4 linked regions of the Homo sapiens genome follow. The protein of the gene in region 3 purifies or fractionates together with the protein of the main gene of each other region. This does not show direct contact. Each region holds a gene or a part of one and is shown on either strand. Other genes may lie near its edges.

The links. Proteins that work in one complex are often made in the same cells at the same time.
Region 1: the proteins of FMR1 (region 3) and SERBP1 purify together in Homo sapiens (co-immunoprecipitation; 2 studies listed by IntAct, with this or other methods). This does not show direct contact.
Region 2: the proteins of FMR1 (region 3) and IGF2BP3 purify together in Homo sapiens (affinity purification with mass spectrometry; 2 studies listed by BioGRID and IntAct, with this or other methods). This does not show direct contact.
Region 4: the proteins of FMR1 (region 3) and BCL7B purify together in Homo sapiens (affinity purification with mass spectrometry; 3 studies listed by BioGRID and IntAct, with this or other methods). This does not show direct contact.

The regions. Positions count from the first base shown.
Region 1 is NC_000001.11:67,423,903-67,427,402, forward strand, and holds part of SERBP1 (SERPINE1 mRNA-binding protein 1), read right to left. Parts: intron 2,384-3,500; coding exon 2,233-2,383; intron 1,322-2,232; coding exon 1,181-1,321; intron 1,076-1,180; coding exon 986-1,075; intron 421-985; coding exon of another isoform or gene 376-420; coding exon 298-375; intron 1-297. UniProt on the Homo sapiens protein: Ribosome-binding protein that promotes ribosome hibernation, a process during which ribosomes are stabilized in an inactive state and preserved from proteasomal degradation.
Region 2 is NC_000007.14:23,313,492-23,316,991, forward strand, and holds part of IGF2BP3 (insulin-like growth factor 2 mRNA-binding protein 3), read right to left. Parts: intron 163-3,500; coding exon 31-162; coding exon of another isoform or gene 1-30. UniProt on the Homo sapiens protein: RNA-binding factor that may recruit target transcripts to cytoplasmic protein-RNA complexes (mRNPs). This transcript 'caging' into mRNPs allows mRNA transport and transient storage.
Region 3 is NC_000023.11:147,935,919-147,939,418, reverse strand, and holds part of FMR1 (fragile X messenger ribonucleoprotein 1), read right to left. Parts: intron 2,916-3,500; coding exon 2,806-2,915; intron 1,954-2,805; coding exon 1,819-1,953; intron 1,321-1,818; coding exon 1,258-1,320; intron 1-1,257.
Region 4 is NC_000007.14:73,544,191-73,547,690, forward strand, and holds part of BCL7B (B-cell CLL/lymphoma 7 protein family member B), read right to left. Parts: intron 1-3,500. UniProt on the Homo sapiens protein: Positive regulator of apoptosis. Plays a role in the Wnt signaling pathway, negatively regulating the expression of Wnt signaling components CTNNB1 and HMGA1.

The DNA.
Region 1 (3,500 bases), on a different chromosome or scaffold from region 3:
CTGGGTGCAGTGGCTCATGCCTGTAATCCCAGCACTTTGGGAGGCCAAGGCAGGAGGAACGCTTGAGCCCAGGAATTGGAGACCTGCCTAGGCAATATAGTGAGACCCTGTCTCTATTAAAAAAAGAAAAAAAAAGCATTCTTTCAAATACTCTTTGAGGGATGAGGGTACAGTAAGTCTCCCTTGTCAAAAACAAAAAGCCATCAAGTAACAGCATTAAATCTATGGGTTATCTTATTGGTAAAACTCCAGTGCTTTCAATTCTGGGTCATTACTATTACACGCAATACCACTTACTTATTTTCAGTGTCTGCCACTGGATGATGTTCTTCACCTTCAGGTGTTTCCTCAGTCACATTTGATTGATCCAAGTCACTGTAATTATAAGATATTTGTTTCTGAATGTATTTGGGGGACTCTCTAAGGAAAGAAAGAAAAAGAAAGGCATCTAGGTCCATTTACATGTAGCTGAAAAGTTCTTCATACAAAAATACCATAAGCTCTCACATTCTCTAACTCCTTTCTTACTAAATATACTCCCCAGAAGACGTCGAAAAGTAAACAATATAAACTAGTTAGTTCATATACTTCATACTTAAAAAGTAACAGAACAAGGCAGTTAATTATAAAATGAAGCTTTACTAGCTTATCAAATTTTGTAATGACAACAAAGTCAAAAGCTAGAATAGGAACTATTAAGGACACTAAGATAATCAGAATACCCAAATAACCTTATTGTGGGGTTTCAGGAAAAGCTACAAATACATATGGGGGGGAAAAAATGAGTAACAAATATATCGAAATATTAAAAAACCGGTCATTCAATATACTATAACCCAAACCCATCCCATAAGACATTATCTTGTAATATAGTAACTCTCAGAAGAGAGCATTCATTCTTATCTCAGAGACAAGTAAAATTTGACAGAGGTATGGATTAACCTCTAGTTAGGTATAGAATTTTTAAGAAAATCAGAATACCAACGTTAATTCGTCTTTGACAGTTCCCCAGTTGTGAGATCCGCTACCTCCACGTTTGTCCTCGTGCTTCAGGCCACTGTAATGTGAAAAAGAACTAACAAAACTGAGTTAACATAATACTCTTTAGTTCTAGAAATTCAAAGTTTGTTTATTAAATAGATTAAAATATTAAAGTAAAATAAAAACCAGTAAGACTTACGATCTATCACTTCCACTATGCCTATCAAATTCACGTTTGCCACGAGAATCAAATCCATCTCCTCGGCCCATTCCACGTCCACGGCCCCCTCGACCTCTTCCAAGACCACCACGACCTCGAATAGGTCGGTCAATAATCGGTCTATAATATAAACAAATAAATTATACTTCCATGGTTTCCAGAAGAAATGAGGAAAATTCATCCAAAAGATCAAAAATACAGAACATGTTTACTGGCTCAAAAACCAATAGTTAAATACATACACTTCAGAAAATTCAAAATAGTCTGTTTCTAAACACAAAGGAAACCAGAACAAGACAGCCTCCCAAAACAAGAAAACTATTTTAGCACTCTAAAGCATTACTACCAGTGCATATACTTTTCCACTGCTATTCATTGCACATATAATCCAGTCCATCACTATTTACCAATACACTTAAAAATTAAACACATCTAACTTGCATAAGTAATTTATTTGCTATAAACAATAAACCAACAGTATTTTCCTTCAACTAACAGTATTTTCCTTTTAACTCTGTATCTGGAGAGAGAAAGAAAAAGAAATTGGTTATCAATTCAACAAAGTGTTTCCATTACAAGAGACCTAAGTTTGAACTGTTACCCAAAGATCTAAAGCTTAACAATGCACACATACAGATGTTTCTGTGAAAAATTAATAGAAACAATTAGCCAGACTGCTACCTGGCAATTATGCCCAATTTATAGCTTAACATTAAAATGTGACTCTATAAAGTAACAAAATATGAAGACTTCTTTGGTTTACGCCTGTAATCCCAATATTGCAGGAGGACAGCTTGAGCACAGGAGCTCAAGACCAGCCAATGCAATATATATAGTGAGACCTCAGCTCTACAAAAAAAATTAGCAGTGTGGTGGCGTGACCTTGTAGTCCGAGCTACTCAAGAGGAGACTGAGATGAGAGGATCATTTGAGCCCAGGAAGCAGAGGCTGCAGTGAGCCAAGCTTGTACCACTGCACTCCAGCCTACATGTTAGACCAAGACCCTGGCTCAAAAACAAGAAACAACTTACCTATCAACTGAAAATTCGCCTCCTTCACCCTTTTCTTCAAGTGGCTTTTCGAATCTTCGTTCACGAGGTGGTCGCCTTTCTGGTCTTCTATCAATTATTTTCCCTTCACCCTGAAGTTGTTGATCAGGTCTTCTTCCAACTCGTCTTATTCCTAAAACGATAAGATAACCTGCATAAGCAAATTATTTTTGCAATCCAAAAACTTTAGGCCTGGACTGTCAAAAGCTGCTTCTCTTCCAATCCACTACCATTTCCTGTTGGAAAAAAGCAAACACTGGGCAACTCTAATGTGTAACAAAGTACCTTAGGAAAACTGCCATTTAAAGACAATAAACCTTCCAATCCATACCACCGACTAAATACATAAATAAATAAAATAAAAACAATAAACTTATTTTAAACTTCTATTTAAGTTTGCCAAGTTCTCCCCCTCAAAAGCATTTTCTATAACTGACTTGGAAATCATTTGGGCAACCATTATTCCCGTCACTTTCCAAGATAGTCTCTTAATAAAAACTTTTAAATTTAAAAAATTTTAGGCAAGCAATACATTTTGGCTTTTAAAATACCAAAGAAAATACCAGCAGCCATTCATAAATAACCAAGCAAATCAACACACTCACTAGATATGGCCCCTCACAAAAGTGAGGGCCGCACTATGTTATTCTATCTAATCTGAAAAAAAAATGCAATTAAGACTCATAATTCTATAAAATTACAAATCTGAAAGGAAAATATGGCATTTAGGATTATTAGAGAACATCACTTCAGTTTAAAACAGCCATTTAACCAGAAAAAGTGTCATCTTTTGGTCTTCTTAGCTACAGGCACACAAAAAGGGCCATCTTCCCCTATTAAAGTTTAAAATTTTATAGCATGTAAGTGTATATATGTTTGTACACACTCCCACATCCCTAAGTACTTCCAAGTTAGGAAACAGTTACTTATTATGCATGGAGAGAGTCCTCTAAAAAATTTGCCCTAACAACTATCTTTATTTTCAAAGAATCTTTAAAAACCAAATACACACACGTTAAGACCGCTTTTAAGCAACATGTAAGAAATAAGAAAACTTGTGACACTAAGTGATAGCTGAAGCATTTACTAATTTCCCCCTTTACTACTTTTTTCCTGTAATGTCTGAAACCCCACAAAGGCAACCAATTTAAATTATTGGTGCCCATAAGGATCAACAGATTGATGGTTAAATTAATGACTTTAAGATTGTTGGTATGCTCTAATTCCCAATTTCTGACAAAGTCATAAAG
Region 2 (3,500 bases), on a different chromosome or scaffold from region 3:
CCACTGCACAGGTTTTGCTGAAGTACTTGCCGTTTTGCCTCCTTTTCCAATAACTCTGCCAGCAGCAAAGGATGGCACTCTGATATGAGCTTCAAGTTTCACCTCTTCTTTAGGACTAACAAAGTTTTCTTCTTTAATTTTTCCATAAATTCTTCCCTGAGCCTGCAGATGAAAACACATCCTATTAGTGTCATTCATGTATGAAATGGAAAAGGTCAGTTAACTTGAAAGATGGCCCAAATCCAAGTGGGATAGCCCTTTGCAGTGATACATCTACATTTCATAGATTGTTGAAAATAACATAGAAGAGAGCAGTTAGAAGTCCTAAAAGGTTGACAATAACTACTGCCCATCACAGTAGAGGCAACTGAATGCTTGGTGAAAGAAGGATAAACCATATTCTTCTGATGAAAACAGTTAAAGGCAATTAATAACCTAATAAAAACGAATTTTTGTGGGCAAATGGCCATTCGTACTAAAATTGTGATAGGTAAAACTTCTCATGCTGGCCATGAGACATCAGTTGCATTTTTCTTTCCTTTTTGTTGGAGTCAGGGTCCTCCTGTTGTCCAGGCTGGAGTGCAATGGTACAATCATAGCTCACTGCAGCTTCAACCTCCTGGGCTCAAGCGATCCTCCTACCTCAGCCTCCTGAGTAGCAGACTACAGGCATGCAACACCACACCTGACTTATTTTTTTTTTTTTTTTGAGACGGAGTCTTACTTTGTTGCCCAGGCTGGAGTGCAGTGGCACGATCTTGGGTCACTGCAACCCCCGCCTCCCAGGTTCAAGTGATTCTCCTGCCTCAGCCTCCTGAGTAGCTGGGACTACAGGCACTAGCCACCACACCTGGCTAATTATTTTTGCATTTTTAGTAGGCATGGGGTTTCACCATGTTGGTCAGGCTGGTCTCGAACTCCTGACTTCAAGTGATGTGCCCACCTCAGCCTTCCAAAAGTGCTAGAATTACAGGTGTGAGCCACTGCGCCACTAATTTTTATAGAGATGGGGGTCTTGCTATGTTGCCACGCTCATCACAAACTCCTGGGCTCAAGAGTCCTGCCTTGGCCTCCCAAAGTGTTGGTATTACCAGTGCAAGCCACCACACCTGGTCACATTTTTTTTGAGCAAAAGAGACAGAACTGCAGAGTCAGCTATGCCAAGCTCACTAAAAGTCAAGCTCACATCTACATGGGCCAGTTAGAAACCTGCTGAGAAAAATGTTTTCAATTTAAATGTGTTTCATACTCTTAGAAAGGTGGTTTTTCCTTTGAATATTTTAAAGAGGCTACAACATCAAGGTAAGACACTTTTTTCTTTTTTGAGACAGAGTCTCACCCTGTCATGCAGGCTGAAGTGCAATGGCATGGTTTCGGCTTACTGCAACCTCCGACCCCCGGGTTCAAGCCATTCTCCTGCCTCAGCCTCCCAAACTAGCTGGGATTACAGGTGCCCGCCACCACACCCAGCTAATTTTTTGTTGTTATTTTAGTTGAGACGGGGATTCACCATGTTGGCCAGGCTGGTCTTGAACTCCTGACCTCAGGTGATCCACCCACCTTGGCTTCCCAAAGTGTTGGGATTATGGGCATGAGCCACTCACTGTGCCCTGCCTTTTATTTTTTTTTATTTTTTTATTTTATTTTTTTTAGAGACAGAGTCTCTTTCTCTGTGGTGCGATCTCAGCACACTGCAACCTCTGTCTCCTGGGTTCAAGTGACTCTCCTGCCTCAGCCTCCTAAGTAGCTGGGATTACAGGCATCCACCACCATGCCTGGCTAATTTTTGTATTTTTAGTAGAGATGGAGTTTTGCCATGTAGGCCAGGCTGGTCTGGAACTCCTGGACTCAAGTGATCTACCCACCTAGGCCTCTCAAAGTGCTGGGATAGCAAGCGTGGGCCACCGCGCCTGGCCAAGACACTTCTGATATTTAGAGTCAATACATCCTATCACCTACTGCATGCAACTATATAAACAACCTATTATATATAAACAACCTATTACATACAGCAAAGCAGAAAGGAGCCTGAGAGTTGGTTTGACAAGCTGCCAGGGTAAACCACAAAAAACAATAGTACCCAACACGCGTTCACTGATTCAGAAAGCTGAGCTCATTTTAGGGCACTACCGACAAAACAAAATTCATCTTGATACCCTATATTCCAATGATCCTTAATGCCTCAGGCCAATGACGTAGATATTACTATTACTTAAGACAGTCAAAAAGACACTAGGGATATACACTATCCTCCAAAACTGAAGCTCTTGAATTTGTAAGGAAAAATACGGGGTAGGTGGTTTACCATTCCTTAGATCTCTAAAGTAAAACATTCATTTAGCATTGTCACCAATCACATAAATAAAATTTAACTACTATGGCTTAAGTGTTACATTTAAGTTAACTATAAAACATGAGTTTTATTAGTGAATACAGGGAAAGAACTTTGAAGTTCCTATCATACAAACATCATAGGAGTTGCAGGACAGTAATTCTACTTATAAGACTAAAAGCTCAGCACCAAGGAAAGACATGTTTGTATTTATCTTTTAAGATTTCAAACTAAAAGTGACCCTGAGAGTTTGGGATAGGAAGCAGTTTTCAACAATTCTGAGTTAAGATTTGAACTGCCTGGATCACAAGGCTGCTGTGAAGGAATAAATTTCTTCACATGATTTTCTTTCTTCACCTAACCACCCACATCTCAAAGCACCTCCTTCGTTTCCCATTCTTCACATAAGTGAAAGCAGCTTTGGGTTTTTAGTGAAAAAATGGCCCAGAGAAAATAGAAGTCAAAGAAAGTGATTTTTTTTGTTTGATTTAAGGGAGAGAGGTGGGGTGGGGAGAGAACTGTATGCACTGTTACTAGTTACTGTTACACTTTAAGGCTAAAAAAACTAAGGCTTGGCCAGGAGCACAGTGGCTGATGCCTGTAATCCCAGCACTTTGGGAGGCTAAGGTGGGCGGATCACTTGAGGTCAGGAGTTTGAGTGTGTGGCCAACATGGTGAAACCCCATCTCTACTAAAAATAAATTGGCTGGGCGTGGCGGCACATGCCTGTAATCCCAGCTACTCGGGAGGCGGAGGCAGGAGAATCGCTTGAACCCAGGAGGTGGAGTTTGCAGTGAGCTGAGATCACGCCACTGCAGTCCAGCCTGGGCGACAGAGTGAGACTCTGTCTCAAAAAAAAAAAAAAAAAAAAGAGAAAAAAAAAACTACAGCTTAAGGTTAAATAGTTGTCTTCTTACACAGCCACTAAATGTTCTAAGACAAGACACCCATACTAAATTTTGTGGGAGAAATCATACACTAAAAGGAATATATTTATGAATTTGGCATGGTCTTAGTCTGATTCATCCATAGTCTGTTGAATACCCCCAGCACGCTAATTTTGTGCTGCCCATGTGTTAGGCACTTTTCTAAACATTTCATATATTGTGTAAACCTTAAACTACCTTAGGATGTAGGTGCTCTTATCCCTGGTTTTACAGAAAAAGGT
Region 3 (3,500 bases):
ATTTCAATAATGTACTCTGAAAATTTTAAAAGGCTGAATCACAAGGAAAGTTTGAACTTCTCTCTATGGACACTACTTAACATAAGAACAGATTTTTAAAAGGCATATGCTAAATGTCTGTACTCCTAGCCCATATATATATATATTAAGAGGGAAAAAAAAAACAACTACTTCTTGTCACAAGTTATAGGGAAACCTAGAAACAATTGTGCAAATTAATAACTGGCAATTCATTTCTGCATGTTGGGTTTTTCTCCAACAAGCTTTATTTGTTACAAAAGCCTTTAACTGTATTATTTCCCAAAATACCATGTGATGGAATGAATGCTACACCCTTCCCTCTGGGTCAAATATCACCAAAATAGCTTTAAAATCCTATGTAACAGATTTAGTTAGATTGACTTCGGAGCAAATTATTTACGAATATCTTTTCTTGCAACATGTCTAAACTGCTGGAGTACCCCAAGGGCCACTCTAATTTAAGCACTTCACGAGTAGACCTGAATAGTAAATTAAAATGAAGAAAGGCAAGAATGGAATGATGGCCTTTAGTACGGACCCCAGAAAAAAGTTACTCTGTGTTCTGGAATAATGGGCTGCCCGGCAATGAGACATATCCAATCCACTTGCCGTTATAGTCCTCTTTGTAAAATGGCACCTTTGCTTTTAATCCATGAGTCCACAACATTTTTTTCCATAAACAGTTCTCACCAGCTCTCCCTGCCCTCAAAGAACTTACAATGTGGTTGAGGAGATCAACAAATAAACATCTATGTTTAAGTGCTATGCTAGGGGTGAGCACATTGCAAAACAGAAGGGGAAGGCTCTTGAACCAGTCAAGGGGGTGGGGATCTTCGGCAAGTACACAAGGAAAGCTTTGTAAGGAATAAGGTCAAAATGAGGTGACATGTGGAGGAGAAAAAGCATTCCAGGCAGAGTAAACCTGTACATATGTCTAGAAGCAAAATAAGCACGAGAATGTTCAGAGAACTCAAAGTACTTCAGTATGGCTTAAGGTTCTCTAGAGTGCAAGGGAGAAGATAATTTAAAGATGATAACTAGACAAGTAATTAGGAAAAGCCTTACAAGCGGCATGAAGGTGTTTAAGCTTTAACTCCAGGGCAATGGATCCACATACCCACAAACACTCCTCCCTCCAGTCCCTAATCCTGAGGATCATTTGTAATCTTTGTTAACAAGGGGAATAAACATTAAAATATAAACTGAAAGTGTATTTCTCAAGGAATGTTTTCCTACCTGCCAAGCCTTGAGTTCAGGTTTCTGGGATTCCCCTGCTACAACTGATGAAGCCACTAACACCTAAAGCAGTATAAGGAATGCAAGGGATGTCATTAACTATAACAAACGATACACAGAAGCCTGAACGCAGGACTTTCACTGCAGGACTTTTAAACCCATTTCTAAACAGATTAGTTCAAACAGAGAAAATTAGTTTCTAAAATATGGTTCAAGTAGTAACTAATGCAACTAACAGAAGGTGTATTTTGAGCTACGATACCTGCAAAATTTAAAGAGAGAAGGCATGGAAAAAAGAGAGTCCACTGTCAAAAGAAAAATGTGACCACTAAATGCAACCCCATTATTTTGTGTTTATGGCATAAGAGTTGTTACTGTGAATAAATTGAAAAGTATGTATCACACTAATTTGTAGTATCTCATAAGCTGGCAATTACATTTGGAAAAAAAATAGAACATAAGTAGCCTACAAGTCTAACCAGAGAAAACATCCAAAATACCAATTGTGACATCTGAGACAAATTACTTGTATTGTAATTCAAAGTGACAAGTAATTCTTACCCTCTGGACTTTTGTACTGTTAGGTTGAGAAAAATGGGTGCTGTTTTCCTTTATATCTAAATGTTTTTTTTCTTCTGGGGCATTAGGTCCAACCCTTGAATTATTGGAAGGAAGGGAATTTGGTGGCATAATTTCCTTGGTAAAAAACAGAAAACACAAAAGAGAAAAAAAGGACCAATTTAAGACTTTATTTAGCTCTATTAGTGTTATCAATCATCATATTTTTAAAAAATGTAAGTTATTATAAACAGTTTTGGTTTATAAAATTACCGAATACAAATTGTACGCAGAAAAAAAAGATTTAACTTTAGCTAAAAGAATCTTTCAAAAAGAAAGCTAGACAATATGTGAAAATTACGGCTCTTTGATGAGACAGTATCTTAAGAGTACTATTGCACAGAAAGGTGCATCCTCACCTCTCTACCCCATGCAAATACTTTAAAAGCTGCTACAAAAAGCATATATTTATGAAGATAAAAGGGTTACAGAATTTAAAGGTAAGGAGGATGGGGAAGAGATATTAAGCACAGAAATAAATTTAAAGCACACAGAATAAACACACATACTACACAATCCCCACACTAAAAAAGTGAAAAGATGAAAGCCAGAAAACCTGTGTTCCAATTTTGCTTTTGTCAGCAACATTAACATTTACAAAGTGCTTTACGAAGCATTTACATATATATTATTTTATTAAATTGCCATTAACACTCGACCCAGTGATGTATGTCTCATATTTAAAAATTTATAACTACCCATTTTAAAGATCAGGAAAAAAGAATTCAATAAAGTGACTAATCCAAACTCACTGCATTAGAGGACAGAGAAGGGCCATTATCTACAATTATAACATTAATTACAGCAGGCATGCTTGATAATCAGAATATTTGCATTCACTTTATGCACATATTAGAGGTCCTCAACATATCACATAAAAAACTTTTACTTTTATTATATGTGCCACAAAATATTCGCACTGTAACATACCTCTTCTTGTGGAACATTTTTCTCATTTTCAGCCTCAATCCTCACCCTCACAACTCCTGACTTGTCCACAATCTCCTGAATCAGCTTTCCATTTTTTCCTATTACTTTGCCTAAGAAATAAATAAATCAAGTTTGGTTTTAAAAACACATACCTCAAAGCAGTAAGCACAGCCCTACTGTAAACTATTACATTCATATAGATAGATATTTTTATGTGTATGTGTATGTATTGAATTGTAAGATTTCAAAACCAAAGTAGAGACTCTTTTCAACAAGATGGTTAATCTGGTTTTCTGTTTAATTAGGACATCATTGTTTAAACTCCTTTGGTCAGGTACCAGAGTTGATTAATACTTGCAAACTGATAGGGTAATTTTGGATTTTTAAGGCAGTTCAAAGATAACCTCTTATTTTTGCACAAAAGGGTACGCTTTAAACTTGCTGGTACTGTGGTATGTATCATTCTTTCTGCAAAGTTCTATAAGAATTAAGAAAAAAGTAGAGAGAATGGGAAATATATTCACTTATTCAACACTTTCAATTCTTGTCTGTACCTGATTTAAATCTGCTTCTTTGTCCATGGTAAATATTTTCAGAATTCTGTATGGAAGGCACATTTATAAAAGATAATCTAAGTCTGAAAGTGGCTTAAGCAGCTATACATACATCCAAAAGGAATACAAATTCTTCAAGGT
Region 4 (3,500 bases), on a different chromosome or scaffold from region 3:
CGCATGGATCACCTGAGGTCAGGAGTTCAAGATCAGCCTGGCCAACATTGTGAAACCCTATCTCTACTAAAAATACAAAAATCAGCCGAGTGTGGTGGCATGTGCCTGTAATCCCAGCTACTTGGGAGGCTGAGGCAGGAGAATTGCTTGAGGTGGAGGTTGCAGTGAACCAAGATGGCACTACTGCACTCCAGCCTGGGCTACAGTGCGAGACTCCATCTAAAAAAACATAAAATAAAACAAAAAATAAAATAAATAAATAAATAAATAAATAAAAATACAAAAATGAGCCTGGCATGGTGGCATGTGCCTGTAATCCCAGCTACTCTGGAGGCTGAGACAGGAGAATCGCTTGAACCTGGGGGGTGGAAGTTGCAGTGAGCCAAGATTCTGCCACTTCATAACAGCCTGGGCGAAAGAGCGAAACTCCATCTCAAAAAGAAACAAACAAAAAAACCCAAAAAACAAAATGATCACCCCATGTTTATTTTTACCTATAACATTTGTTTCAAGAAAGATGTAGGTTATAAGTGCAGGGCAACCACAGTGGGCAGGTAAGCACCAGCTTGCAACAAGAAAGCCCAAGGGCCAGGCACAGTGGCTCATGCCTGTAATCCCAGCACTTGAGGAGGCGGAGGTGGGAGGATCCCTTGAGCCCAGGAGTTTGAGACCAGCCTGGGCAACATAGTAAGACCCCATCTCTACAAAAAAATAAAAAATGAGCCATGTATGGTGGCATAGGCTGGTGGTCCCAGCTACTGAGAAGGCTGAGGTGGGAGGATCGCTTGAGCCTGAAAGTTTGAGGCTGCAGTGAGCTATGACTGTGCACTCCAACCTGGGCAACACAGTTAGACCCTAACTCAAAAAAAAAAAAGCCCAGAGTAAATCCAAGCATATGAAAATGAGAGCATCCCAAAAGCCAAAAGTTTAAATCTGAGTAGCCTCAAATTTACCAGTTCACACTTTTTATACATTTCCGGTAGATGCATTATATTAGTAACGTAATTTTTGTTAATAACTCAATTTTTTGTTTGTTTTTTGAGACAGAGTCTTGCTCTGTCACCCAGGCTGGAGTGCCATGGCACAATCTCGGCTCACTGCAAGCTCCACCTCCCAGGTTCACGCCATTCTCTTGCCTCAGCCTCCCGAGTAGCTGGGACTACAGGCGCCCACTACCATGCCCAGCTAATTTTTTGTATTTTTTAGTAGAGATGGGGTTTCACCATGTTAGCCAGGATGGTCTCGATCTCCTGGCTCCAGGATGGTCTCAATCCGCCCGCCTCAGCCTCCCAAAGTGCTGGGATTACAGGCGTGAGCCATCGCACTCGGCCAAGGAAAGGGGGTTTTCTAGCAGCATCTACTCCTGTCTATACACAATGCCCAAGAGATTTAACTGCTTGACCTTTGACCCCTGTGGGTAATGGCCAGAGCCAGGCTGGATGGGGGAATAAACAGTTGCTCCAGAACCACGCCCCATCAACTCCATGAGTTTGGCATCCTAGAACTTCTTGGGATGGCTGCTCTCAGATAAAGGCAGAGTCCATACAGTTGGTGCTAGGAGGTTCCCTGGAGCCAGAGAGGACAGCAGAGAGCAAAAGGGAGAGGCTGAACCCTGAGGCTAACCTCAACCTCCTAAATTCATTTACAGAAAGGAAAACTGGCCGGGCGCGGTGGCTCACGCCTGTAATCCCAGCACTGTGGGAGGCCGAGGTGGGCCGATCACGAGGTCAGGAGATTGAGACCATCCTGGCTAACACGGTTTTCACCCGCCTCCACTAAAAATACAAAAAAATTAGCTGAGCGTGGTGGCGGGTGCCTGTAGTCCCAGCTACTTGGGAGGCTGAGGCAGGAGAATGGCGTGAACCCAGGAGGCAGAGCTTGCAGTGAGCCAAGATCGTGCCACTGCACTCGAGCCTGGGTGACAGAGCGAGACTCCATCTCAAAAAAAAAAAAAAAAAAGAAAGAAAAACTACGGATCAGGCTTCCGTCCTCCTCGTAGTTACACATTACCAGCCAATGCAATTGAGAGTCCCAAGGGAATAAAAGGTGAGTGCACGCATAAAACTCACCAGAGATTGGAGGAACACAGGCACCCTGATAAACAGAACAGTCTGTACCAGAAGGAGCAGAATAACTGAAATTAAACATGGATTTGCTCAGAAAGATAAGGATAATATTGAAAAGTTGTTTTAGCCAGGGGCAGTGACTCACAGCCTGTAATCACAGCACTTTTTGGGAGGCCAAGGTAGGCAGATCACTTGAGGTCAGGAGTTCGAGACCAGCCTAGCCAATATGGTGAAACCTGTCTCTACTAAAAATAGAAAAAAATTAGCTGGGCATGGTGGCACATGCCTGTAATCCCAGCTACTCAGGAGGCTGAGGCAGTAGAATCATTTGAACCTGCAAAGTGGAGGCTGCAGTGAGATGAGATCATGCCACTGCACTCCAGCCTGGGTGACACAGCGAGACTCTGTCTCAAAAAAAAAAAAAGTCGTTTTGAGGAAGAACCAATTGAGGCAATTTGTTATGAAAAATACAATTGCTCAAATAAAAATTAAGTGAATGAGGTTAATTGAAATACATACAGCTAAATAAAAGATTAATGAGCAAAAACTGCGTTGAGAAACTCAGAATGCACCAGGAAAGACAAGAAATGAAATGAATGAGAGAAAAGTTAAGAAATAAAGCAGTTGGCCAGGCGTGGTGGCTCACGCCTGTAATCCCAGCACTTTGGGAGGCCAAGGCGGGCGGATCACCTAAGGTCAGGAGTTCAAGACCAGCCTGACAACACGGAGAAACCCCATCTCTACTAAAAATACAAAAGTAGCTGGGCATGGTGAGGCAAGCGCTACTCGCGAGGCTGAGGCAGAAGAATCACTTGAACCTGGTAGGTGGAGGTTGCGGTGAGCTGAGATTGTGCCATTGCACTCCAGCCTGGGCAACAAGAGCAAAACTCCATCTCAAAAAAAAAAGCAAGCAAGCAAGCAGCTGCGTGGGTGCAGTGGCTCACACCTGTGATCCCAGCACTTTGGGAGGCCAAGACAGAAGGATCGCTTGAGCCCAGGAGTTTGAGACCAGCCTGGGAAATACAGCAAGACCCTGTCTCTACAAATAATTTAAAAGTTTGCCAGGCGTGGTGGCACGTGCCTGTAGTCCCCGTTACTTGGGAGGTGGAGACATAACTATTTCTTGAGCTCAGGAATTTGAGGCTACAGTGAACCATCATTGCACCACTGTACTCCAGCATGAGCTATGGAGTGAGACAGTCTCAAAAAAAAAGGAAAAGAAATATTACAGGATATTTTGAGGGAATTCCTAGGAGATCAAATATAGAAGAAATGCTAAAGTTTCCAGGAAGCCAAGTAGATCACCTACAAAGACTCAAGCATGGGAATAACATCACATTTCTTAACAGCGACACTGGATGTACAATTCAGTAATAGCTTCAAAGTGCTGAAAGAAAATAATTTTGAACCTAGAATTTCATATACAGGTAAAAT